Linked DNA regions of Homo sapiens. The protein of the gene in region 2 interacts with the protein of the main gene of each other region in a pairwise test. Each region holds a gene or a part of one and is shown on either strand. Other genes may lie near its edges.

The links. Proteins that work in one complex are often made in the same cells at the same time.
Region 1: the proteins of SLC35H1 (region 2) and TMEM50B interact in binary tests that used the Homo sapiens proteins (3 or more experiments, as listed by UniProt).
Region 3: the proteins of SLC35H1 (region 2) and FAM3C interact in binary tests that used the Homo sapiens proteins (3 or more experiments, as listed by UniProt).
Region 4: the proteins of SLC35H1 (region 2) and LPAR3 interact in binary tests that used the Homo sapiens proteins (3 or more experiments, as listed by UniProt).

Annotation. Positions count from the first base shown.
Region 1 is NC_000021.9:33,469,597-33,473,644, reverse strand, and holds part of TMEM50B (transmembrane protein 50B), read left to right. Parts: intron 1-4,048.
Region 2 is NC_000020.11:46,353,312-46,358,768, reverse strand, and holds part of SLC35H1 (solute carrier family 35 member C2), read left to right. Parts: exon of another isoform or gene 1-5; 5' UTR 6-43; coding exon of another isoform or gene 44-78; 5' UTR 79-210; coding exon of another isoform or gene 211-262; coding exon 263-382; intron 383-995; coding exon 996-1,146; intron 1,147-2,131; coding exon 2,132-2,195; intron 2,196-2,894; coding exon 2,895-2,967; intron 2,968-3,527; coding exon 3,528-3,696; intron 3,697-3,803; coding exon 3,804-3,887; intron 3,888-5,457.
Region 3 is NC_000007.14:121,361,431-121,365,478, reverse strand, and holds part of FAM3C (protein FAM3C precursor), read left to right. Parts: intron 1-1,290; coding exon 1,291-1,349; intron 1,350-2,531; coding exon 2,532-2,582; intron 2,583-4,048. UniProt on the Homo sapiens protein: May be involved in retinal laminar formation. Promotes epithelial to mesenchymal transition.
Region 4 is NC_000001.11:84,886,329-84,890,376, forward strand, and holds part of LPAR3 (lysophosphatidic acid receptor 3), read right to left. Parts: intron 1-4,048. UniProt on the Homo sapiens protein: Receptor for lysophosphatidic acid (LPA), a mediator of diverse cellular activities. May play a role in the development of ovarian cancer. Seems to be coupled to the G(i)/G(o) and G(q) families of heteromeric G proteins.

The sequences.
Region 1 (4,048 bases), on a different chromosome or scaffold from region 2:
CTCACTGTGTCACCTGTCATAGCTCACTGTAACCTCGAACTTCTGGGCACAAGTGATCCTTGCATCTCAGCCTCCTGAGTAGCTGAGACTACAAGTGCACACCACCATGCTTGGCTATCCTCATTTTTGGAGAATATTTTTGCTGGGTATAGAATTTGGGATTGAGTTTTTTTTTTTTTTTTTTTTTCTTCCGAGACAGAGTCTCACTTTTTTGCCCAGGCTGGAGTGCAGTGGTGCGATCTCAGCTCACTGCAACCTCCAGCTCCTGGGTTCAAGTGATTCCTGTGCCTCAGCCTCCTGAGTAGCTGGGTCTACAGGTAAGGGCCACCATGCCCAGATAATTTTTGTATTTTTATTAGAGATGGGGTTTCTCCATGTTGCCCAGGCTGGTCTTGAACTCCTGGCCTCAAAGCAGTCTGCCCACCTCAGTCTCCAAAGTGTTGGGATTACAGGCATGAGCCACCACACCTGGCCTGATTTTTTTTGTCTTAAAGCGTTATTAACAGTGTCATTCCTGTGTCTTCTAGTATCCTTTGTTCTGGTTAGAAGTGAGCCATCATTCCTATTGTTCTGTCTCTGTATATGTTGTATTGATTTTTTTCCCCATAAGACTGTTTCAAGAGTTTCTCTGTATCTCTGGTTTTCAGCAGTTTGATTATGATGTTTTCTTTGTATTTATCCTCCTTGGAGTTTGCTGAGCTTTTTGGATTTATAAGTTAATATTTTTCACCAAATTTGAGAAATTTTCATTTATTCTTTTTTTTTTTTGAGATGGAGTTTTGTTCTTGTTTCCCAGGCTGAAATGCAATGAATGGTGTGATCTTGGCTCACTGCAACCTCCGCCTCCCAGGTTCAAGTGATCCTCCTGCCTCAGCCTCCCAAGTAGCTGGGATTACAGGCATGTGCCATCACACCCAGTTTTGTATTTTTAGTAGTGACGGGGTTTCACCATGTTGGCCAGGCTGGTCTCGAACTCCTGACCTCAGGTGATCCACCCGCCTCAGCCTCCCAAAGTGCTGGGATTGCAGGTGTGAGCCACCGTGCCCAGCCCATCTATTATTTTTTTCAAAATTTTTTTATTTCTTATTCTGTCTTTTCTTCTTCTGGGAACTTTAATTACATATATTTTAGACCACTTAGTATTGTTCCTCAGGTCTCTAAATTGGATAATTTCTTTTGATGTTTAAGTTTACTGTCCTTTTCTTCTACTGTATCTAATCTGCGATTAAGTTCATTTAGTTAATTATTTATTTATTTATTTTTTAGATGGAATCTTGCTCTGTTGCCTGACTGGAGTGCAGTGGTGCAATCTCGGCTCACTGCAACCTCCGCCTCCTGGGTTCAGGCAATTCTACTGCCTTAGCCTCCTGAGTAGCTAGGATTACAGGTGCCTGCTACCATGCCCAGCTAAGTTTTTGTATTTTTAGTGGAGACGGGGTTTCACCATGTTGGCCAGGATGGTCTCGATCTCTTGACCTCGTGATCCCCCCGCCTTGGCCTCCCAAAGTGCTGGGATTACATGTGTGAGCCATCCTGCCCGGCCCATTTAATTTTTAAATTCAAACATTGTAATTTGCAGTTCTAGAATTTTCTTTCTTTCTTTTTTTTTTTTTTTAGGGGAGTCTCGCTCTGTTGCCCAGGCTGGAGTGCAGTGGTGCCATCTCGGCTCACTGCAAGCTCTACCTCCCGGGTTCTCGCCATTCTGCCTCAGCCTCCTGAGTAGCTGGGACTACAGGCGCCTGCCACCATGCCTGGCTAATTTTTTGTATTTTTAGTAGAGACGGGGTTTCACCATGTTAGTCAGGATGGTCTCGATCTCCTGACCTCGTGATCCGCCTGCCTCGGCCTCCCAAAGTGCTGGGATTACAGGCATGAGCCACTGCGCCCAGCCCCTAGAATTTTCATTTGAATCTTTTTACATTTTAATTTATTTTTTAGAGACAGGGTCTTGCTATGTTGCCTGGGCTGGGCTTGAAGTCCTGGCCTCAAGCAATCTTCCTGCCTCGACCTTCTGAGTAGCTGGGATTACAGGTGCAAGCCATCACATTGGCTCCTGATTCTTTTTTTAAAAAATAGTTTCCTTTTCTCTACTAAGATTCTCCATTGGTTCAGTTATTTTGACCATGTTTTCCTGTAAGTCCTTGAATATGATTTTTATAATGGGTGCTTTAAAGTCTTTGTCTGCTAATTTCAATATCTGAGTCATTTTGGGATTTATTTCTATTGACTGTTCTTTTTCCTCCTTAAAAATAGATCACATTTTCCTGGTTCTTTGCATGTCTAGTGATTTTTTTTTAGTATATATTGGACGTTGTGAATAATATGAGTCAATTTTGTTATCTTCATCTGAAAAGTATTGCTTTTTATTGTAACAGGCAGTTAAAATATTGGCTGATCACCTTGAAATTGTGGAGACTTGGTTTTATATTTTGTTAGGATATGTCCCCAAGGTGTTTACTGATCCTCCCTGACTTGGTGGAATGAAAATTCCAAAATGTCTCCCTTATTTTAAAGTGTTTGGGGCTCTCTTTGTGACTTACTCCTTTCCGAGATGTCCCCCTTCAATTTCCAGCTGTTATGGTGGTCCTGAACTCCCATCTTCTGGCATCTCAAGCCAAGAAGACTGTGGCTTTTTGCTGCCACTGTGGCCACTTTGTGCCAAGGGGACTCCCTGGGCTGGGAATGGGAGTTTAATGGGGTTCCTAAGGGGAACAGCTGATCCCACTTACTGTGTTTTCTTTCTTTTTTTTTCTTTGAGAGGGAGTCTCACTCTGTTGCCCAGGCTGGAGTGCAGTGGTGTGATCTTGGCTCACCCCAACCTCTGCCTCCTGGGATCAAATGATTCTCCTATTTCGGCCTCCTGAGTAGCTGGGATTACAGGTGCATGCTACCATGATTGGCTGATTTTTTTTCTTTTTTGAGATGGAGTCTTTCTCTGTTGCCCAGGCTGGAGGGCAGTGGCTCACTGCAAGCCCCGCCTCCCGGGTTCATGCCATTCTCCTGCCTCAGCCTCCCGAGTAGCTGGGACTACAGGCGCCTGCCATCATGCCCAGCTAATTTTTTTTTTTTGTATTTTTAGTACAGACGGGGTTTCACCATGTTAGCCAGGATGGTCTCTATCTCCTGACTTCGTGATCCGCCTGCCTTGGCCTCCCAAAGTGCTGGGATTACAGGCGTAAGCCACCGAGCCTAGCCGATTTTTTTTTTTTTTTTTTTTTTTGAGACACAGTCTCGCTTTGTCTCCCAGGCTAGAGTGCAGTGGCACAATCTTGGCTTACTGCAACCTTCGCCTCCCGGGTTCAAGCGATTCTCCTGCCTCAGATTTTTGTATTTTTAGTAGAGACGGGATTTCACCATGTTGGCCAGGCTGGTCATGAACTCGTGACCTCAAATGATCCACCCGCCTCGGCCTCCTGAAGTGCTGGGATTATAGGCGTGAGCCACCACGCATCTGGCTGTGTTTTCTTTCTTTCAAGGATGAAGTTTCTTTCAATTTCTGCCTGTTTTTCAGCCCTGTCCAGTGCTTTCAATTTTTTTTTTATTTCTTTCTAGAATTTATGGTGGCCTTGAAACATTTCATGTTTACATAATATCTTTGTTTTTAAAAATAGTATGCTACACTCCTATAGTTATTTAGGCACATGATTTTTCTCCTTCTTCCAGTTATGTCTTACTGCGTTACAGATTAATGCCAAAACCCTGTGGCTTAAAACAGTCATTTTATTATGTTTATTAGATTTTATGGGTCAGGAATTTGGAAGGGGCATAGCCAGGATGATGTATCTCTGCTCCATATATCTGGTGCCTTACCTGGGAAGGCTCAAACTTTTGGGATGGTGCTATAGCTGGATAGCAGTTACCTAAAAGTGTCTTTACTCATGTCTGGCAGTTAATACTAGCTGTTAGCTGGGACCTCAACTGTAACTGTGGGTCAGAACACCTATAAATGGTCTCCTTACAGCATGGTAGCCCAAGCATTAGTGTTCCAGAGAACCAGGCAGATGCTCCATTGCCTTCTGTGACCTGATCTTGGAAGTGGCATGGAGAA
Region 2 (5,457 bases):
AGCAGCAGACCTTGGGACCTGTGAGCGCTGCATCCAATTAACCATGGGAAGGGTCAGCACCAGCCACCAGCCCCTTAGGTGAGGACTCTGCCTGGGGCTCTGCTGATGGTTCCGAATCATGGAGCTGCAGAGAGCTCCTCCAGCCTGGAGACGTTCTTGGTGAAAGCTGTGGTCTAACTCCACCGGCTCTTCCTGCACATTGTATTCAAGAGGGGTGCCTGCCCCCGCTGACTCAGGAGCTCCGGTGCTGCAGCCGCCACGAATGGGGAGGTGGGCCCTCGATGTGGCCTTTTTGTGGAAGGCGGTGTTGACCCTGGGGCTGGTGCTTCTCTACTACTGCTTCTCCATCGGCATCACCTTCTACAACAAGTGGCTGACAAAGGTACCAGGAGGCCTTGCTGGGGCGGGGTGCTGGGATGAAGGTGGCCAGAGCCATGGCTACGGTGCCCTTCATGTTTAACAGGAAGGCACAAGCTTCAACCAGTCTAACTGGAAGCCAGTCACGGCTGGGCTGGAACAGGGCCCTCCAAGCCTGCCGTGCCAGGGTTCCCCTTCAGTGTTTGGATCCAGGGAAACCAAGGAGAGCGGGGGGTGTGAAGGGATGAGCTGGGGAAACTGGGGCTCAAGCAGCAGCTATTTACCCCACTAGAGAAGTATTTCAATATTTTAATAAGTGATACAACGTAGTGGGCCGCAGTGGCTCTCACTTGGGCATAGGCCGTGAGGAAGGCTGGGCAGGTAGCTCACAGGTGTGTTGAAATGGTGGAGACAGCACCAGGCTAGGATTGAGTCTCTTGGCTGCCACCTGTCTTCGTGACCTAAGAGTCTGTCATTCCAAGCGATGATACCGTAACTAAGGGCCCTACACACATAGCAAGGTCCTCATGAACCACCGAATGAGCCCCACTCCAGCAGAGGGGCGAAGAGGAAGAGGGAGCCGGTGGGGGGCAGGCTGTCTAAACCAAGCCGGGGTGTCTGCTTTGGGCTCCATACAGAGCTTCCATTTCCCCCTCTTCATGACGATGCTGCACCTGGCCGTGATCTTCCTCTTCTCCGCCCTGTCCAGGGCGCTGGTTCAGTGCTCCAGCCACAGGGCCCGTGTGGTGCTGAGCTGGGCCGACTACCTCAGAAGAGTGGCTCCCACAGGTAGGTGGGGGACCTCAGTGAGGGCAGAGCAGGAAGAGGGGCTGGGGAACCATAGGATGAGAACAAGAGAGACACCCGCATGTCTGGAAGCCAAGTCCCTCCCCTCTTCCTGCACTGTTCCTCCTCTGCCCTCTTGACCTGGCCTCCCACCACCCACGCTGCTGCCTCTTGTGCACTGCGTGCCTTCCCACTGCCCCACCACACACCCACAAAACCCCCCCTGCACCTGCGGCCCCGCAGCTCCCTCTCCTGCCAGCAGACACCGAGCCTGGAGTGCAGCCCTCAGGCCTGGAGATAAGTGGTGAGCAGGCAGGGTCCCTGCCCTCGCAGGGCTGTGACACGGACATGGAGGGCACTACGGAGCCCAGGGAGGGGACCAACCCAAGGCCGGGGCCCATGGCTGGTAGAGGAAGATTTCCTAGGCCAGGTGCCAAGTAGGCAGAGCCCTGAAGGATGCGTGGGACTGGTTGGCCCTGGGAGGAGGGGCCCTCGTGGCCCGAGGGAGATTTAGTGCCAGCTGTGGGGTCTGGAAGGGAACTCAAAGTGTTTCAGGATACTGAGAACCCGGTGCTGGCCAGAGGAAGTGGGAAAAATGAGAACTGAGAGGGTGGGCAGGGGTCATGTCCTGGAGGCCGGATTCCCCGTGGAGGAGTTTGTGTTCCATCCTGAGGGAAAAGGGTTTCCAGTAAGGGATCAACCAGATCAGGTTAATACCTCCGCTCAGGGGGCTCGCCGGAGTGTTTGTGGAAACCATACCGGCCCAGCCAGTTGGAATGGGCCCCAGCCCTAATGCTAGAGCAGCCCCCGACCTTTGGGGGCCAGATATTAACCCTTTAGTTGCTGGTGGAAAAGAAGGCCCAAGGGCCCCACAGGAGGCACCGGGATGGTTCAGAAGTGGGGGACACTCAGGTGCCTCAGGGTACCAGCCCACCCCAGCAGAGTGTGGACCTCCCAAGCTGTCCTGTGGGTGCCTGTGTCTTCACAGCTCTGGCGACGGCGCTTGACGTGGGCTTGTCCAACTGGAGCTTCCTGTATGTCACCGTCTCGCTGTGAGTACTGGCCATGCCCTGCTGCCTCCCTTCAGGCTGAAGCTGTCTGTCTGTCCAGCGGGGTGTCTGCACACCCGGCTGCTAGGCCAGCCACTCCACCACTCTGGGACCAGCCCTTGCTCTCTCAGCCTCTCCCTGGCACCCAGCAGCTCTCCGGGAAGTCGCCAGCCTCTTCCGTAAGCCCAGCGCAGAGGAGATGCTGTGCCCACCTGCCAGGCAGCGTGGGGAAGCCAGGGAGCTCTCCCAGAACCCCATCATCAGAGCAGGGGAAGGCAGGCTGCAAGGCCACAGACAGGTGGCCACTGGTGGGTGGTACACGCAGCCGCAGCAGAGCCCTATGTGGCCTGGGGGCTACACAAGAGTTTCTTCTTCCCTCTGATGTTTTGCTTCAGAGAGCACTGTTCCTGCCTTCTTGTCCTCCTACTTCTCATCCTTCCTTCCCGCTCCTGGGCTCTGCCGAGGGTTAGGTAAAGAACAGGACTCAGGGAGCTCAACGTCAGACCTGTAACCTCTTCTCTCTGGTGATAACCAGAGGCCTCTTAGTCAGAGATTCCTTCTGATTAAAGGTCGCTTATCACTCAGATGACAGCCCAGCTCTGTTTGGTCATTTCGCTCAGTGATTTGTGCTCCTGCTCCTTTCTCGGTGATGGGTCTGAGCCCTGAGCTCCAGCAGTGCATTGTGGGTAATTTTGCTTCCAGGTACACAATGACCAAATCCTCAGCTGTCCTCTTCATCTTGATCTTCTCTCTGATCTTCAAGCTGGAGGAGCTGGTGAGGCCCCAGCGTCTCTTGTGTCCTTCCTGCCCCCACAGATGCTAAGAATAAAGTGGGAGTCTGAGCAGTGGCTTGTCCTGCTGTGTGACAGAGGAGACAAGCCCAGTCCAGGTGGCAGTAGATCCCTTTCTGAGAAGGGACCTAGACATGGGCAATACTCAGAATATTTAGAAACCAGTGTGGCAGGGTAATGACCAAAGGTGAAAGCACTGCAGGATGAGGGTCCCAGCAGAGCTGGGTCTAGGAAGCACCCTGCTGTGGGAGGCAGTAGCCCTGTGTGTTAGGCCCAGGGAGGAGGTGGGACCACTTGGGGGCCTAGGACAGCCGTCAGTGTGGCAGAGCAAGCAGGGCTGTTGGCATACCAGCTGACCGTCAGCCCTACATGCTGACATTGGTGGGCAAGGACTGTCCAGGACCCCCTGGGATGGAGCTGAAGGGTGGAAGGATTTCTTGCCCCAGGGGCAGCCAAGATGGCTGCTGACCCCAGGCTCCAAATGTGATGAACCCTTGACCCTCAAGACCCCCGAGTTAGCTGCCACTGCTCCCCATCCTACCAGCGCGCGGCACTGGTCCTGGTGGTCCTCCTCATCGCCGGGGGTCTCTTCATGTTCACCTACAAGTCCACACAGTTCAACGTGGAGGGCTTCGCCTTGGTGCTGGGGGCCTCGTTCATCGGTGGCATTCGCTGGACCCTCACCCAGATGCTCCTGCAGAAGGCTGAACTCGGTGAGCACGTGCCACTCATCCTCCAGAGAGAGGAACCCCGGCACAGGCAGGGCGGAGGCAGGGCAGGGCCGGACCAGACCTGATGGTGCCTGTCCCCCGCCCTGCAGGCCTCCAGAATCCCATCGACACCATGTTCCACCTGCAGCCACTCATGTTCCTGGGGCTCTTCCCTCTCTTTGCTGTATTTGAAGGTACGTTGGGCCTTCCCTCTCAAGGGCACCTCAGTGCAGCAGACCACAGATCCTCGCCCTGAGCCCAACACAGTGGTAGCTGCAGAGATTATTGAGATCAAAGATGCAGTCCCTCCCCTGGAAGCGCATGGTTTGGGGTCCAGCATGATAAACGCTACAGAGAAAGCACATATAAAATTCAGGGAACAGTAACAGTAAGTGTGCACAGAGCCCTGAAAGTGCACCAGGGCTGTTCTGATCTTTTTAAACATAGGAACTCATTTCATCCTTCCAAAAACCTGGTGTGGCAGTACTATTATTATCCCCCATTTTGCAGGTAGAACAAAATGAGGCCCAGAGAAGTAAAGATAACTTGCCCAAGGTCCCATAGCTCGTAAATGAGCCAGAATTTGAAGCCAGCAGCCTGGCTCCAAGTGGTCCAGCCCTACTCTTAACCACCCTATCTTGCCTCTAAGGAATGGGGAATCAGGGATTGTTCCAAGATGCTGGAGTAATCAGGCAAGTCAGAAAGGCTTCCCAGGCCGTGGTTTGGAGGGTGAGTGGGATTTTGGCAGGCTGCAGGGAGCAAGGCATCTCGGAAGTAGGAATAGGAGGTTCAGCCATGTCCAGGAATATAACCTGGGGATGTGTGTTCAAGGAGTGTGGGCCACGCAGGATCAGCAGAGGGTGGGCTTCCAGAGCTGGGGGCTGAAGACCAGGAGCCAGCACACAGGAGCCTGGGGACATGGTCAGTTGTTCCTCCACTGTCGTCCTCCAGGGATGAGGAGAGCCCTGGAGAACTGTGTAGGCTGGGAGGTGTGACGCCACCTTCCTTTCTTTGATGTTTTGGGATTAGCCTTTGTCCCCTTTCTGTTTATCCTTCCTCCCAGAGTCCCGTCTGTAATGCCCTCAGGGTCATTACAGAAAATTCTGTCCCACATCCATTTAAGTTTCAAGCAGTGAAGCGTCTTGAACCTCCCCAAGAAAATTATTCTGAAGCCCCGTTGTCCAGGAAACTTCTGTTCAGGGCCTCGTTTTTTTTCCTTCTTTAAAATCTCTCCCCACTCCTTCATTATGCCCCCTTGTACCAAACGCCACACTCTCCCTCCCCTCCCGTGTGTTTACACCATGCCCCATCTCTGCAAAACCTCATCTGAAAGCCCCTGGTAGTCGTCACTTGGCAAAGCTGCATGGATTTAGCTCCTTTAATCTTTTCTGGTAAATTAATCCCCCAAGCGCCTTCATTACTTATGCTGCTCTTCCCCGAATTCCCTTCAATTTGCCGACGCCTTTGCAGTTCTGCTGAGCCCAGCACCAAACAAGATGTCCTACACTGTGAGGCTGTTTTGCCTGGGGGGACTGTCACTCGGCATTTCTTTGGTGCTTCCCTCCAAAAATCTCAAAATACTCGTCCAGCTTCCAGCTACCACAGTTGTCTCTTGTGCCCAGTTCTGGGCCCCCCTTCACCCTGTGCTAATACACCACGAGGACTTTCGTGTGGGAGGGACGCCGGGAGTCATTCTTCCAGATGGACAGTGTTGGAGGGACCATGACTCCTCCGAAAGTCTAAGCTGAATTTGGGGTAGGGGGT
Region 3 (4,048 bases), on a different chromosome or scaffold from region 2:
CTAGACTTGAGGTGAGGGAGAAAATATTACACAGATTAAATTGAAAAATATGTCCTATCTATATCTATTATATGGTGGATAGCACCAAAAATGTAGGAAGTAGTCTTCCAATATTTAAAACTTATTATCTGATTCAGTCATCATTGACAGGCAAGTGGAATTTGAACATGAATCTCCATTATTTGTTTTTCTTTATTTTATCTTATTAACATAGATCCAACGTTTGTTAGAACTGAGCTCATTCATCAATTGCAACCATAGTTCAGCTGCAGATGTGAATTGTTTGAAAAATCAACTAAAATACTCTGTGAGAATCGACTGAGATTTATAATAAAGTACATCGTAGATTTTATTTATGAAATTGTGTGCTATACATCTTTTAGTAGTTTATAATAAATTGTGTACCTATGTGTATATATAATTCTGTCTATATAAGGACAAGTGTGTGCACGTGTAGTCACATATGTGCATATTGCCTCTCTCTCCTAAACACAGAGCAGTTGTTAAATAGTTAACAGCACACCACTGGGAGTATTACTATTACCTTGAAGTTTTGAGTTAAAAGAACTCACAATTTTAGTTTAATAATTCTAATTTGAGCAATTGAACAAACTGAACTGATAACCAGCAAATTTGTCACTGGTACCTTCCATTTTACAGTGTCATTGTCTTTATATAGTGGTCTGTGAGCTGCCCATGGAAGTCGATTATTTCAGGTAGTCACCACGTAAGTGACTGTCATTCAATGCAGTGATTTCATGAGTGCAATATTTCTTAGTGTAGACGAACTTTACAGTGATAATCACTAGGAGAATGTTCACAATTAGGTAAAACATTCATGAAAGAGTGCTCCCCCACTCTGTTTGCTTTTAGATTTAAATGATGGGGGTAGTATCTCGCTTCTGTTTCATGTCACGCTGGTATTGAAGAGAGCAGAAAAGAGATTATCTTTTGTTTGATACCTTAAGAATGATGCAGAACATATGCTTAATGTCCATGTTTTAAGAATAATCTGAAGCAGTGTAGCACAAAAATGGTCTATTATTTCAGGCCTAATATTTTTTAATATGTATTTCTATTTGTGAAATATTATTTAAGGACATTGCTTTAAAATTATTCAGTATTAGACTGTCTTCTCTGACTTAGTAGAGATCTTTTTAATTTCCTCCGCAGCACTGAACAATTGAAAATATGTATAATATTCCTAACTTTTTTTGCAAGACTTTATTTTTCTGATATGTTATTGTACAATATTTAATTCTAAATTTATTTCAATTTCTCCCCCTTCAGTTTAATGAGTGGTGTTAAGAATAATGTTGGAAGAGGGATCAATGTTGCCTTGGCAAATGGTAAGAACAATTATTTTAGCTTATGGATGTAATCATTGGGTATTTTTCTGTCCCAAAGTAAAATGCACTATCAGAGGATCAGGTTAGAAAGTACTGCTCTTGATGATAAAGCCCTCTGTCCCATCCCTGCCCTGCAAAAAATCTATGGGTGGAGACTTGGTGTCTAAGAATTTATAGCGTGTTTCTTGAAAGTATCCTAACTTGCTATGCAAGAGCTTCCATGAGATTGTCAGAAACCAAGCAGTCTAACATCACATTGATAAAATCTTGCTTCAAATTTTGGAATCCTAACATAATAGGAAGATAGGTTGACAGGATTAAAGGCGTATGAAATGACAAAGGATGGTGTAGGGGGAGGAACAAAGAATAAGAATGTATTGTAATTTTTCATTATCAGCCACATTCTTCTGATAGCTTAATTAGTATGAATAAGTTGATTGAATCCTGAACATCTCAAATTTTCCTTCAAAATCAAATCTGAAAACATAAAACCATAAAGTGAGGCCTAACTGCATATTGATCCTCTCTGTTCTGGTACAATAAGTATTCCATAAAGCTATGTAGGATGGTTATAAGATATATAGGATGGTTAGAAACCACTGTAGTTTCATAGTGTAGAAAAATATATTTTACTACTTTCACAGCAAGAGGTAAATTTTTGTTCTTCTGCTTTCTTCATTTCCTTAGGTAAAAGGTTCAACATCTGTCTATTTCATTAATAGCAAAAAATACATTTTATAGGGCAAGTTAATGTAAGTTTTATTGTAAAAACTGATTTAATGTAGAAAATGGCATCTGATTCAAGGAGATACTTCTTTTTTGTAAAAGGTTTACTTTTGAGTAATTTTAAAATAAGAGAATATGGAAACAACGATGAAATATATCTAACCGAATTGGAATGGTCTACAGTCAGTAATGAACTTCTATTTATCCTTCGGCTTAAAAGATTAATGAGAAAGTTCTATTAAGAAATTACCCTTTAAAAATATATTTCAGGTGCATATGATTCAGATTTTAAGTTCTCAAAGTAATTCTTTGAGATGAATTCACATCTCTCTAATGCTAATGAATTCACATCTTCTCTGCTAATGAATTCACATCAATCATTGGATGAGATTATTGGTCTTACAGTGTATGATATATTTCAGATGCATAATTTGATATGAATTTAATCTCTTTTAGGAAAAACAGGAGAAGTATTAGACACTAAATATTTTGACATGTGGGGAGGAGGTAAGCATAAATAACATGACTGTGTTCTTTTGCTGGCACTGACTTAATCACCTCAATACAATGTAGCCCATTAATGAGAGAATGATGATGCTATTTGCGTTAGTTCATTTTGTTTCCCTTACTTTCTGTTCACTAAATGTCCAGCTGTATTTAAGTTATCATTCATGTTTTATATACTTTCTTCTTCTTAGAAAAAAATTTTTGTGGTGTATAATTGAAGATAGTAATATCAAAATTGAGATTTTTTTAAAAAAAGTCATCTTGTTTTCTACAGGACAACCAATTCAAAAGTTTTGGGCTCCTTTAAGTGTGTCTAAAATTTAAAAAAAAAAAGTAATTTGAAGACCAGAATAACCAATGTAAGCATTCCTAAGTGATAGGAATTGATTTTTTTTTAAATGTGATTTTTTAGTCTCAAAAATAAATCATTAGGAGCATTAGGAGCATTAGAAAGACAAGATAAACTATCAGTTTTAGAACAGCAGTCCTATTATTCATCACAGTTCTACCCTCTGACTTGCAGCTAATTTTTTAGGTAGATGAATATTTGAGGGAAGAAATAGAATTTTCTTTCTTGTAAAGCAATCCACAGATATTTTCCCCTTCCATATTTGGAAGTCCCACAAGGAGTGGGAAGAAGTTACCAGCACGCAGAGGCAAGGGACTGGCACCCCAAAGAAGAACGCTGCCCGGAAGAATGGGTTTTTTTCCTCCAGTTTGAAGGGAGGCCAACACTGGTTTATCTTTTGATTCTTTAATTTGGGAGATTGATCAGTATGAGGATCTCCCCTGCACCTCCCCATTCCATTTATATATTCCCTAGAAGCCAACAGCTATTAGGCTTCCTGAAATTCATGTTAAGAGTTCTCAGATAATTTAGCTTTTCCAACATATCTTCAGCTTGTAATAAGATGGTATGTAGCCGGACGTGGTGGCTCACGCCTGTAATCCCAGCACTTCGGGAGGCCGAGGCAGGCAGATCACGACGTCAGGAGATGGAGACCATCCTGGCTAACACAGCGAAACCCCGTCTCTACTAAAAATACAAAAATTAGCCGGGCATGGTGGCATGCACCTTTAGTTCCAGCTACTCCTTGGGAGGCCGAAGCAGGAGAATCCCTTGAACCGGGGAGGCAGAAGTTGCGGTGAGCCGAGATCTTGCCACTGCACTCCAGCCTGGGCGACAGAGCCAGACTCCGTCTCAAAAAAACAAAAGATGCCGTGTATTATTTTGTTATTAAATAATGTTAGGACAACATTGCATAGCTGTCAAAGCTGTATAAACTTAAAATGGGACCATCAATTTTAGATTCTAAAGGCATAAATTGGTCCTGCCAAAATTTATTGATAGAAAGAGTCTTACAAAGCTGTTGTTGAAATCAGTCATGTGACCAGGAGCTCTGGTATTCCTTACTTCTCTTGTCACAGGTAGATTAATTACCGCTAGCAGCATTCTTCTAGTTAGG
Region 4 (4,048 bases), on a different chromosome or scaffold from region 2:
AGCCTGGGCAACACAGCAAGACCCCTCCTCTAAAAAATATTTTTTAAATTAGCCGGGAATGGTGGTGAGCACCTGGAGTCCTAGCTACTTGGGAGGCTGAGATAGGAGGACTGCTCAAACCTAGGAGTTAGAGGCTGCAGTGAACTATGATCACGCCACTGCACTCCAGCCTGTAGTACAGAGCAAGACCCTGTCTCTAAAAAAATTAAAATTAATAAATATTGTATTCTGCTAATTTGCCAAGAGAGTAGATTTTAGGTACTCTTATCACAAACACAAGAAAGGTAACTATGATGGGCATGTCAATTTGCTTGACTGTAGTAATTACTTCATTACATCTATGTTTATCAAGATAAATACATGAAAATATCATGTTGTATGCCTTAAATATATAAAATATAAATAAGACAAAAGTACCATTCTCTACTAAAAGGGAGGCCTAACTAGGTCAAGGAAAGTAGAAGATGAGTCCAGATGATCTGGTGGAGCCAGAAAATAAAGAAATGCTCAATGAATAATAGGGATGTGTTAAAAGGACACAGGAGGCAGCTCCAAGGGGTCCCCATTGGCCAAATTGAGCACAATTTGAGCATTAAAATAAAAAACAATCGTGAGACTTCAACTTATTGAATACATAAGGAATCCATGAACAGTTCTTAGTAAAAACATAACAGAAAAATAAAGTTCTTCCTTATAGTAGTATGCCAACTAACAAATGTAGAAAGAGTGACGGTGATAAAGAATCATCACTTGAGGCTGGGTGCAGGGGCTCATGCCTGTAATCCCAGCACTTTGGGAGGCCAAGGCAGGTGGATCACTTGAGCTCAGGATTTCGAGACCAGCTTGGGCACCATGGTGAAACCAACTCCATCTCTACAAAAAATACAAAAAAAAAAAAATAAGCCAGGTGTGGTAGTGTGCACTTGTAGTTCCAGCAACTTGGGGGGCTGAGGCAGGAGGATCACTTGAGCCCAGGAGGTTGGGGCTGCAGTGAGCCAAGATCATGCCACTGCACTCCAGCATGGCAACAGAGTGAGACCTTGTCTTAAAAAAAAAAAAAAAGAATCACCATTTGGCAACATTCATAGAGGTGGCTGATTCAGGCAGACGTCATCAATAAATGGTAGTTTCTGTAGGTACAGGTTTAATGAGGAACAGGCTATTTGCATAACCCTAGAATAGTTCCCCACAAACACTAGTACAAAGGTGTTTTCAAACACCTTTGGGGAAACAAAGGGAAACGAAGGAAAAATGGCGAATTTAAGGTGAAGAAATCTGGCAAACACCAACATAACCAGGTGATTGAGGTCAATATCCCAGCAGTGGGATGGGTTGGCACCATGTGCCTTCTGTTGTAAGAAGCTAAGAAGAGCTGAGTTTCATTTCTGAAGGATTCCTGCCAAGAATGCATGACCTCAGTCAGGCTGTGAAGAAATACCCAATACAGCCAGGTTGGGAGTCATCCTACAGCATGTAGGACCTATACAACTGCAAACACTTTAGGAACAGGGAAAGTCTGAGGAACCGTTCCAGAAGAGACATGGTAACTAAATGTAACATGAATCCTAGATCAGACAGGTAGAAGAGACATTTGGGGGATAACTGACGAAATAGGAATGGGCTCTGTGGATTGGATGATAGTGTTTTGTATCAATGTCCATTTCCTGATTTGATGGGTGTACGCTGGTTATATAGGAGGACAGAGTGCTTGCTTTTTTTTTTATGCTGGAGTGTTTTCAAGAGTGATGGAGAATAATGTCTATGACTTCCTCTCAGAATAAAGACTGATGATGTATATTTTATATATATATATATACATACATACACACACACACACACACACACACACACAGAGAGAGGCAGAGACAGAGAGAAGGAGGGAGGGAGAGAGAGGGAGAGATTGAGATTTCAAACCTAATGCCATGGAGACATAGAAAAAGATTATACTACTTATTTTCTCTTCACCAGACCCATGTGATAGTTTTTGTCCAGAGAAAGGCCTTCCTTACCCCCATTCGACGAACTGACTTACTAAAAATCAAACAGGGCAGGAGGTAAATGATTCACTGATGTGCTCCCAATAAATTCTATACTTGATCCCTTGCTTTGGTTTTCTATAACTAGTCACTGCCAATGGCTTTGAGTCTTAACTCTGGCTTTCTACCTCCTTAGGGAGTGAATGCTGCTGATAGACTCCGCTGCCTATCTTTGAATTACATGGTCTGAGTCTGTCTGGGGGCAGCTCCAGAATTTCTACAGAGGATGTGCTTCGGGATAGCTTGGCTTAAAAGGGGAGACCAGGGGCTTGCCTTAAAGCTGCATTTATAAAGCAAATACACTGCTTTTATTTAGACCGCATGTTTGCTTGGAAGGCCTTTGGACCAAATAGTGCACTTATGGAGGGGCTAATGTGCCCTCCAACCCAGCCCTGCCACCTGCCAAGCCATCCCTTGATAACTGGTCAATCTGCACATGGGTGAGTCAAGGCCAGGGCTAGTAGAAGCTCCAGCTTAATGTCCCAGGGAACAATGTAGACACAGGACTAGCTGATGAGTAATTAGAGGGGTTGATGAACATCCTCAGGAAGGGGTGGGGCAGGCTGTGCTGGGCAGGTTGCTTTCCACAGTGACACCCAGTCTGGCCCAGCCTGAGGTGTACAAATGATTCACATCTGAAGAGGGGTGACAGAATCATGGGAGTAGGGCAGTATCAGGGGTCATGGGCAAGGGAGGAGTTCAAGGTTGTAGATACACAGGACAAGAGGCCAGCCAAGGAAGAGGAATAAAGAGGAGGACATAAGACTGGGGGTGATGAAGAGAGGGGTGGGTATAACCCAGGATGTCAGAACCTTCCCCTCAATGGTACTAAATCCCCTCCCCCACCCTCCAGCTGGCTTGCCAGGACAGGTAGAGAGCAACAAATATCTTTCAGACTGAATTAAGTAATTAGCTTAATTTGGGGGTGGGGGAGCAATGCCTTTGGTCAGTTTAGAACTTTGCAGAGTAAACTAGAGACCCAAGTCAGCAAGAAGGCACAGGGGAGTGAGGATGGTATAGGTGGACCCAATACATTGTCCAACATTGCCATCAGCACCCTCCTCCTGACCTGTGGGATGGGTGGTGGCCAGCTGTTTGTGTTTGTCCACTAAGAACTGAGATGCGCAGACAGTACAGGTAATTCCAACACGAAATTAAAGCTTCTTTGGAACTTTGCCCTATGCCTTCGATCATGTAGTGTTGGGTAACCTCAGTCCTGAAATTTAACTTCCTCTCATATTCCCCACAGAGCAGTTTCTCAACCTTTGATGCTATTTCCTCCTCGAAGTCCAGTATGATGTCAGAGGACGGGAGAGAGGAATATGGAAGAACTGCAGCAGTGCCCCCTTAGCACTCAAAACATGCTTGTGGAGATACTGCCAACCCCCAATAGCCAGAGCTGAGTGGGCCTGCCTGGGGTGGCCCACATCTGGATGTCCTGCCTCTTTAATTCCAATGTTTATGCACTCTTCACAGGGTACAAAGCTCTTTCACGTACATAAGTTAATGGAACTCATTAACAATCCATGTAGACAGGTAGAAAAGTAATTATTATCCCCACTATATAAATGAAAAAAACTTAAACATGACAATCTATTCAGGGTCACAAGAACTCACAAAAGTGGGACTAGGATTCAAAGACAGAACCCTGTGCTCCAAGTACCTCTAGTCCACCGTTTGTAAAAGCACAAAGTCTCTGCACTTATGCAGATAGCTCCCCAGCCCCATCACCACCTCTGCCATCCACAGCAGGACTGAGTTCCAGGTGACTCCTCCACAAATACAGAATCCAGGATGAGGAACAAAGGATCATCAAGGCCGGAAAGGGGGAGGCTCAGTACCTGCAGGAGGAATGACGAAGGGAGGAACAAAAGGCCCATGGCCAGGAAAAGAGAAAGCAAGTAAGAAAAGTGTGTATAACATCTCTAAGTCATCTAAGGCTTAGAAATCTTTGCACTTTTACCAGAATATACATTTGCACCCATGTTTACACAAGTGTTAATACTTAAATT